Linked DNA regions of Homo sapiens: region 2 is linked to region 1. A link means that fine-mapping ties the variant in region 1 to the expression of a gene that starts in the linked region. Tissue or cell type: sigmoid colon. Region 1 holds a variant in brackets; the other region holds the start of a gene. All regions are shown on one strand. Distances are from middle to middle.

The links.
Region 2: it holds the start of PJA2, and the variant in region 1 is fine-mapped to the expression of PJA2 in sigmoid colon (GTEx, PIP above 0.99). The same link has a PIP of 0.9 or more in thyroid, tibial nerve and visceral fat.

The regions. Positions count from the first base shown.
Region 1 is chr5:109,379,134-109,383,531 of GRCh38, reverse strand. It overlaps PJA2 (praja ring finger ubiquitin ligase 2), which reads left to right. Exons shown (of 10, transcript NM_014819.5): 2 at 12-129; 3 at 1,829-2,029; 4 at 4,278-4,398. The coding sequence starts at 99. Among named protein-coding and RNA genes, the nearest start is that of PJA2, 29 kb to the left of the region's middle. The variant T/C (reference allele first, on the strand shown) is at 1,905.
Region 2 is chr5:109,407,870-109,412,267 of GRCh38, reverse strand. PJA2 (praja ring finger ubiquitin ligase 2) reads left to right here and starts at 2,294. Exons shown (of 10, transcript NM_014819.5): 1 at 2,294-2,426. RefSeq lists enhancers at 1,660-1,839, 2,950-3,069, 3,110-3,209 and a silencer at 2,350-2,429.

The DNA of each region.
Region 1 (4,398 bases):
TTTCTTTGTAGGAATCTTCTGCGGCTTGTCCATAGTGTGAATAAAAACTAAATCACATCTATAATTCTACTGAACTGGTCACACAGACGCTGCCATATATGTCACAGTACACTGAAAAGGAGCCAGCAGGTAAGGAAAGTCAGTTCTTCTACATTGAGTACTTCTTGTTTTTTCCTCTGGGTACCTTGAGTACCAGTAAGTGACATATGATCATCTGACCTGTGGTCTTACTAAAAGGCTGGTTTTGATCCATATATTGAATATTTGTAAAGCTTAGTTTCTAATTTTTGATAGGTAAAAATAGAAATTCTGGTATTTTCTTTCCATACCCATTTAGCTTGGAAAGCTTTATGCTTTCCACTTCGGAGACTATTCTTTTGGTAGAATTGTTAAGGGCATTGGTTCTGGAGTCATACTTTTGGATTATTAGACAAGTTATCCAACACTTAATTTTAACTTTAATTTTTCAATTTTTAAAATAGAATACAATATCCACCTCAAGATTACTGATGGGATTAAATAAGTGTAACACTTGATATTATTTATACTCGATATGTGCGTGTATTATAAATACATGTTTGTTTCTGTTTCCTTCTTGGAAGTGATTATATTTCTTATTTTAATACAACTAAGAAATTATGTAACTGTTTCATTCATTCATTTATTCATTTTTTTTTTTTTTTTGAGATGGAGTTTCGAACTGTCACCCAAGCTGGAGTGCAGTGGCACAGTCTTGGCTCACTGCAACCTCCGCCTCCTGGGTTCAAGTGATTCTCATGCCTCAGCTTCCTGAGTAGCTGGAATTATGGGCATGTGCCACCACGTCTGGCTAATTTTTGTATTTTTAGTAGAGACGGGGTTTCGCCATGTTGGCTAGGCTGATCTCGAACTCCTGGCCTCAAGTGATCCGACTGCCTCATCCTCCCAAAGTACCGGGATTACAGGCATGAGCCACCATGCCCAGCAACTGTTGCATTTATTGACTATACCATATGCTGTGAGAAAATATTTTGTTTAGTTGCTGTGTAGTACATGTAATGTATAATTGACTAAGCAGACTTACACTTAATATATATATGTGTGTGTATAATAATGTACTACTTAGTGAAAGTTGCTGCTGTTTACTACTGTATACCCCTCAGTCAACAAAACTTAATTGTCAAGTCATGTAAATGTTGATGGCTTTTCTTACCATAACATATACCATTTATTGGTAGTTTTGAAGGCAGGGTAGTATGTGTTTGACCTGGCTCATTGCTGTTTTCTTTTGGATAGTTTTATCTGACGTTAATCTTTGGAACATATTTATTGTGATCTAGTTGATTCTTCATGGTACAGATACCATTTAAAGAGGTTACTTGTTATCTTTGACATAAATGTTTTCATTCTTAAAGTAATTGAAACCATCATATCATAATGCTAGTAATTGATTCATCAAATATGTATTGAGCACTTATATTAATATAATATATAAGGTACTTAATTTGGAAGATCTCCCATAAAGAGCTTTGGCAGTATAATAATTTGGCATATGAAAAATATTTTTTGATAGGTTTCATTATAAAAATCTGAAATACCTTAAAGAAACCAAATTTTAAAACATATTTTTTGAAGGGAAAAGGCCACTAACTCTTATTATATAGTACTTCATATTTAATTTTCTAGTGTGTGAAGAATAATGTTTTATAGTACTAGTAAGGTACACTTCATGTTCAGAAGCATATGATTTGATAAATAATAAAATATAAACTGAAGTAGTTTTCCCCAACAGGTTGCAAGAATAAAGCTCATTGCTGTTCCTGTTTTAATTTTTTAACTTTTTTTTCAGCAATGGACCAAGAATCTGGTAAGGCTGTCTGGCCCAAACCAGCAGGAGGGTATCAGACAATTACAGGCAGGAGATA[T/C]GGAAGAAGACATGCTTATGTCAGTTTTAAACCATGTATGACCAGACATGAAAGAAGCTTAGGTCGGGCTGGTGATGACTATGAAGTGTTGGAACTAGATGATGTTCCAAAGGAAAATTCCTCAGGTGTGTAACATTTAATTATTTAAAGGTTATTAATAGTTATATAGGAATTGATCTTATAATTAAATTTTTGGGTGGGTATTATGCATGTCTGTGAGTGTAAATGCAGCACACTTCCTATCAAGAAATTCTATTTTGAAATTCTTATTGAATTTAATATTAATGGTGTATATATTTAAACATTGTAGAAGAAAATAGAATACAGCCAATCATTAAAATATAACCACACTCTCATAGTAGTGATTACGTTGTCATAACCTCCAGCCAAAGGAAATCATCTTTGAATCAAAAAGATATATTTTGAAATTTTTAAAAATGTGGATCAAGTAGAGATATTTTTTCCCTGCATATAATATTTAAATAACTTTTCTTCTTCTTCTTTTTTTTTTTTTGAGATGGAGTCACGTTCTGTTGCCCAGGATGGACTGCAGTAGTGCATCTTGGCTGACTGCAACCTCCATCTCCCAGGTTCAAACAATTCTTGTGCCTCAGCCTCCTTAGTAGCTGGGATTACAGGTGTTTGTCACTGCACCCAGCTAATTTTTGTATTTTTAGTAGAGACAGGGTTTCACCACGTTGGCCAGGCTGATCTCAAACTCCTGACCTCTCAAGTGATCCACCTGTCTTGGCTGGCTTCCCAAAGTGCTGGGATTACAGGTGTGAGTCACCATGCCTGGCGTTCTTTTTTTTTTTTTTTTTTTGAGATGGAATCTTACTTTGTCATCCAGGCTGGTGTGCAGTGACGTGATCTGGGCTCCCTGCAGCCTCCACCTCCTGGGTTCAAGTGGTTCTCCTGCCTCAGCCTCCCAAGTAGCTGGGACTACAGGCATGCGCCTCCACGCCTAATTTTTGTATTTTTTGGTAGAGATGGGGTTTTGCCATGTTGCCCAGGCTGGTCTCGAACTCCTGACCTCAAGTGGTCCGTCCAACTCAGCCTCCCAAAGTGCTGGGATTACAGACATGGGCCATTGTGCCCGGCCAACTTTTCTTCTTTTAATTTTATCCTAAATTTAACTTGGCTTGTTTATTTTTTCATCATTTTACAAAATCCAAAGGACAAGGAAGGCTTATTCAATTAAAATTTCTTAGTTATTCAATGGTTTTGAAAAAGTATTTTGCAGCTATCCATGTACCATAATTGCACATTTTTGGACTGGATTTGTCTTCTTCCTCTTGTTCTAAGCAAACTTGACAAGACATTTCTAGATTATTTTTGCTGTCATATGTAAGAATCTGAATTACTAGCTAGGGTCATCCCATTGAAGAACCCTTCGTTCCCAGCTACTTGGGAGGCTGAGGCAGGAGAATGGTGTGAACCTGGGAGGCGGAGCTTGCAGTGAGCCGAGATCATGCCACTGCACTCCAGCCTGGGCCACAGAGCAAGACTCCGTCTCAAAAAAAAAAAAAAAAAAAAAAAAAGAACCCTTCGTACCATATATCAAAGAACCCTTCGTACCATATATCATGGCCGAACTTCAGTTATTTTACAATTCATGAATTTTTATTCCAGCAAATCTCAAATGTCTTCATTTTTTTTATTAGTGGTGATGCAAGATAGTTATGCTTAAAGTAATTTATAGATATGATTTTACTCATGTTTCAGAATTCTCACAATTATGACAAGAATCAACATATTGATCTCTTTGTTGTTTTTCAGTCATAACTATAACACATCTAAAGTAAACTTATTACAAATGTATTACAACAATTCAATTTATAATCTGTCGAGATACTGAGATATAATTTTGTGAATTGCCAACAAAACACAATAGGGTCTAATTTCTCTTAAATCTGTAACTATAGTTATTATATCTGTCATAAGTACTTTTGAAGGTTTTTTGTTTTGTTGTTGTTTTTACCTGCATATAATAAAGAAGGTAAGTTTGGAAATCACTGGGAAGCAGATTGGTTACCCTAGACTCCACTTACGAGAGGCTTCCCATTGTATAACCTCTCAAGAGCTTCTCCTTTATATGTCTTGCAGAAGGCATTAGATATTAGGATTTAGATAGAAAACTGCCAAAGCCATGTGAGGGAGATGATAGTGAAAGGCTGTACATTGACATAAATGAACTCATAGAGTAATCAGTCTGCATTCTCAGTTAAGGAGCATAGAAGTGCTTGGTAAATAAATTTACTCATGTATTCAAGTAGTAATAATTGGTATGATTTCCACTTAAGTGATAGTTATTACATAAAATTTTATCTAAGTTAATCCTTTAAAATATGTTTTCTTTTGTTTTTTATGAAGGTTCCAGTCCTTTGGATCAAGTTGATTCTTCTTTACCCAGTGAACCTATATTTGAAAAAAGTGAAACAGAAATTCCCACTTGTGGTTCAGCATTGAATCAAACCACTGAGAGCAGTCAATC
Region 2 (4,398 bases), 29 kb before region 1:
ATGTAGTACCTTCAATCCATTGCCTTAGATAGTGCTTCCCAACCCTGGAATCAACAATAATACATATAAGCGAATAATACATACTATTATCTCTATATAGTAATACAATACATAAGCTAATATGTATTTAGTACTTCATTGTAGGTATGATATGCTTTACATTGATTAGGTTATTTAATCTATACAACTCATGAATTGGTATTATTACTTTCCCATATTTATAATAAACTGGAAATCGAGGTCAGAGAACAAAGTAGATTGCCCAGAGGCACACGGCTACAAATGCAGGAGCCAGTATGTGAATATGTCTGCTTGATTCTAGAGTACAGGCTTTTTCAGCCTCCATACCAGTGTTTCTCATAGTAACATAGATCACTTATGATGCCTTGGTTAACTGTAGTTGGGACACGCATGCAGGATTAAAAACAATGACTCATATAGTGAGAAAGTGATTGCTATTCCGGCTCTATTTTTTCTATCCTTTGATGACATCATGATAAAAATACCATTTGAGTGCTGTATCTTTAATGTGTGTCTAATGCTTGGTAGCTTGCCCTTTTAACAAAGACAGTTGTCTTTAGACTTAGAGCCTTTAGTGGACAACAGTTTCTAGCCACAATTTAAAAACATTGTTTTGCATTCATTTTTCTTACAGTTACTTTCAACTTATAATAGGTGATGCTAGTTTTCCATTTATAGTACTTTTATAAAGTCTCCTTCTTAAAGAAATTAAAGAAAATATACATTTATTTAAAGAAAAAAGGACAGTGAGTAGTATACACAGATACAGTATGAAAAAGGTTGAAATTTGGGAATCCCTGCCTTCTAGAACAGGTTAATGTATCCAGTTGGGCCAATCTGGAACACCCTAAAGGGAAACTAGGGAAATGTAATTAAAATATGAATTTTGTTTTTTTTCAAAGAGGTACTTGGATGGTTAAAGTCAGAACTCCTATAGCAACACGTGTGAAGGCAGAGTAATATCAAGCAAGGAATGGTTTTTTGGTAAGAAACGTACTACAGGAGTGGGCTGGGATTCAGATTGGATTTCACAAAATGTCTGGCAAATTCTCATAAACCTAAATTTCTACAGTAAATTTTGGGTAATTTATTTCCATCAACAGCAAAAAAAAATTAGTCTCAGTTCACTGGCAAGAGAGTTCGCTGTTGTTAAGGGGACAGCACAAGAAGTGGGGCTCTTAATTCGCGGGGGAGGGGTGGCGATGAATATATCCTGGGCATCAGGCGACGGGTCGGGGGTGGGGAATAAGAGAAGACAGAGGGACTGTAATCAGATAAGCGGACACGTTTCAAGATGAATAAAGGGAATATGTGCGGAACGAAGAAACAGTTTTGTATCACTGACATAATTAACTAAACTGTTACCCAGGTTTAAATTAAGCAAGGTGTCCGGGGACTGCAGCTGTTGTATTTATTTTGGTTGCATGTGATGGGAGCTGTTACTTCCCGGCTTGACAAACAGCCTCAAGATGCAAGCTGGGAGGCTGTGGTCAGCCCAAGGCTATACAGAGGAAAGGCAGGCCTCCTCTGAACCCCGCCCCAGCAGAATAAGAAGCGAGGGGCAAGGGTCAGCGCGGAGAGGGAGGGTGGAAAGCGCCATATAGTGCCCAGGGTCAGGGTGGGTAAACAAGCCTTTCTTCGTGTCATTTTTTTTTTTTGTCTCACCGATATCTGCATTGTAACTGAACTTTATGCCAGGAGACCTTAACCTTGTTAATCAGGTTTCCAGTCGAATCAGGATCGATTTTAATGCCTCCATTTTGGTTGTTGCTGTTGGAATTTCCGAAAAAGCCTAACTGCGCCAGTCTTTCTGTTAGTTCTCCACACCCCCTTCCCTTTCCGAGACCCCGCCCTTTTCTCTCAGCCCAAACCACAAAAGGCCGCGCAGTTTTAGCTCCTACACGGTGCTCCGCCCCCTCCCCAAACGTCGCAGTACTGCAGGGAAAGGAGGTGGGCTCGGCTGGGGCGGGGGACTGAGTCGGCTTCGTCTTTCCGCTCTTCAGCCAATTGGTGAACTCCCCCTGAGGGAGATGGGGGAGCAGGCTGTAGAGAAGGTCCAAGTATTTTTCCCTTTTTCTGCCACGTCCCAACCATTGACGTGAGCCCACTCCTCAGGTTCTGATTGGGCGTATGCATTGTCCCCCAGCAGAGACCCTGTAAGCTGACTGGTCATCTCTGCTATGGGGGAGGGGCTTGCGTACTCTCCTCCTTCGCCTCCACCGCGGCGCAAGGGGCGGGACTCACCGCCACCGCCTCTGCTTCCGCCGCCGCCACCGCCGCCGCCGCCGCCACAGCCGCCAGCCGCTTCGCGTTCGGCGGGGGAGGAGTTGGAGGCGGAGAAGAAGGCGGTGGTGGCGGGTGGAGGTTCGAGCGCTGTTCTCGCTCCGGAGCCGCTGCACATTTCGGTGAGGGTTTTTTTTTTTTTTTTTCAGTCTGGCTTGTTCCGCTGTCGGGAGTGTGGGGGTCGGGGCGAGGAAATTGCTGCGTTCAGCTCCTCAGTTTCTCTGTCTCTAGCTTCGGAAGGAGCGGGGCTTGTCCCTGGCCTGCTGCGCCGGCCATGGTGGGTGGGGTTGATGGCTGTGGGAGGCCTTCTTCGCCTCCTGGGCCCTGTCCAGCCCGGACCCGGGCCGCGCTCCTATCCGGGACGGTCGCGCCCGCCGCCCCCCGACAGATGACATTGGTTGGTATCGGGGTCTTCGCTGCCGCTCTTTACTGCTGCCTCTTCTGCTGTCCTTGGTGACTTGGCCAAGGAGCCCGCTGGCTTTCCCCTACACTCGCCACTGTACAAGAGTTTGCCCCCCAACCAACACCTCACACCCACCTTCTGCGGTTTCCCGTCACCCCGCGTAGAGCGGAACCATCTTACGCCACAGGCCTGCAGCACCCCTCCCCCGAGGAGCCTTCTGTTGCCGTCGTTTTGCTGGGCGTCTGCATTTTCCCCGATTGTCAGTGAGGCTCGGCACGCAGACACCCCGCTCGAGCCGCAGCAGTCGCTCTACTCCCGGGATCAGCACCTTTCCGCCAGGGCTGCTCTCAGTTAGCGATGTCAGGCCAGAGCTCCTCTTGCAGATGCACCTTTAATTTGGCCTCCCTCAGATGACTGGTAATCATTTTGCGCACATTCAAAATGGTGAGGTTAAAGACGCTCAGACCAAGTTGAAGCAAAGGGGAGGTGGTAAATAGTCGTTTTGCAGGGAGGAGAGTAATCTGAGAGTTCCTTCTCCGGACATTAAAAAAAAAAAAATTTACATCCGCATAGGCGCTTCTTTTGAGTCTGCTGGTTCTGTGAAGTTTAAAATTTTCATTGCAGGCTTAATGTATTCTGTTTTATCATGAAATATTTGGTCACATTTCTTTAAAATGGCAGTCACCTTTGCTGAAGGCTACGGATCATTTGAAGTGTATGTGAATAAACCTGAGGATAACAGTAATAAACGTTTAAACTGTATTTTTCAGTGTTGTAATTGTCTTTTGGGGTTCATGTCATTTTTATATGAGATGACCACTTAATTTTAAAAATTCATTGCAGACATGCAAGTTTGATGTACACTTCAACAATATAAATAACGGACTGTTAGGTAAAATTTAAATATTTCTTTTCATCCCCCAGTCCCACTCCAGTGTAAAGTTGACAGTTTAGTGTTCATTTTTCAAAATCTTGCAAATGCACTTCTAGACACATACAAGTACACGTAAAGTTTTTTTTTTTGAGGGAGGCTATACCATATACCAAACATGTTTGCATACCGCTTGCTTATTGACTTAATTACATATGTTGGACATTTTTACTTTTTACATATAGGTCTCCCTAATACTTTTTAAAAGGCTAACTGGTATCTCGTGAGTTTGAATGGGCTATAATTTATTCTATTCCCTTTTTGAAAGACATTTAATTGCAGTTTCTTTTTGCTATTACAAATGATGATTTATAATGAAAATAACTTTCTAATTTATTGATCGATGTTTAATTACAAATTTTAATTCATCCTTGATTTTAAAAAATTAAACAGTATGGAAGAATGTAAGGTAAAAATTACCGCTTCCACTTCTAGTCCTGCTTGCATCTTGATTGTCAGCCACTGTTAACAATTCAGTAAACTTCCTCTATGTGTGATTATTTCTGGAGCATGGGTTCCTAGAAGTGAAGTTGCTCAGTTAAAAGATTATGCATATTTTAAATTTTGGTAACCCTTTCTCCCTCTTTATTACTCTTGTTGAAAATATTCTTGAATGTTTCTTATGCATTTCTTCTTCTAGGTAAACTTTAGACTGAACTAAAAATCCTTAGCTATTTTGAATAAGGTTATATTGAAATTTTAGATTAATTTGGAGACAACTGATCTTTATAGTATTGAGTCTCTCTCCTCAGAAATGTGG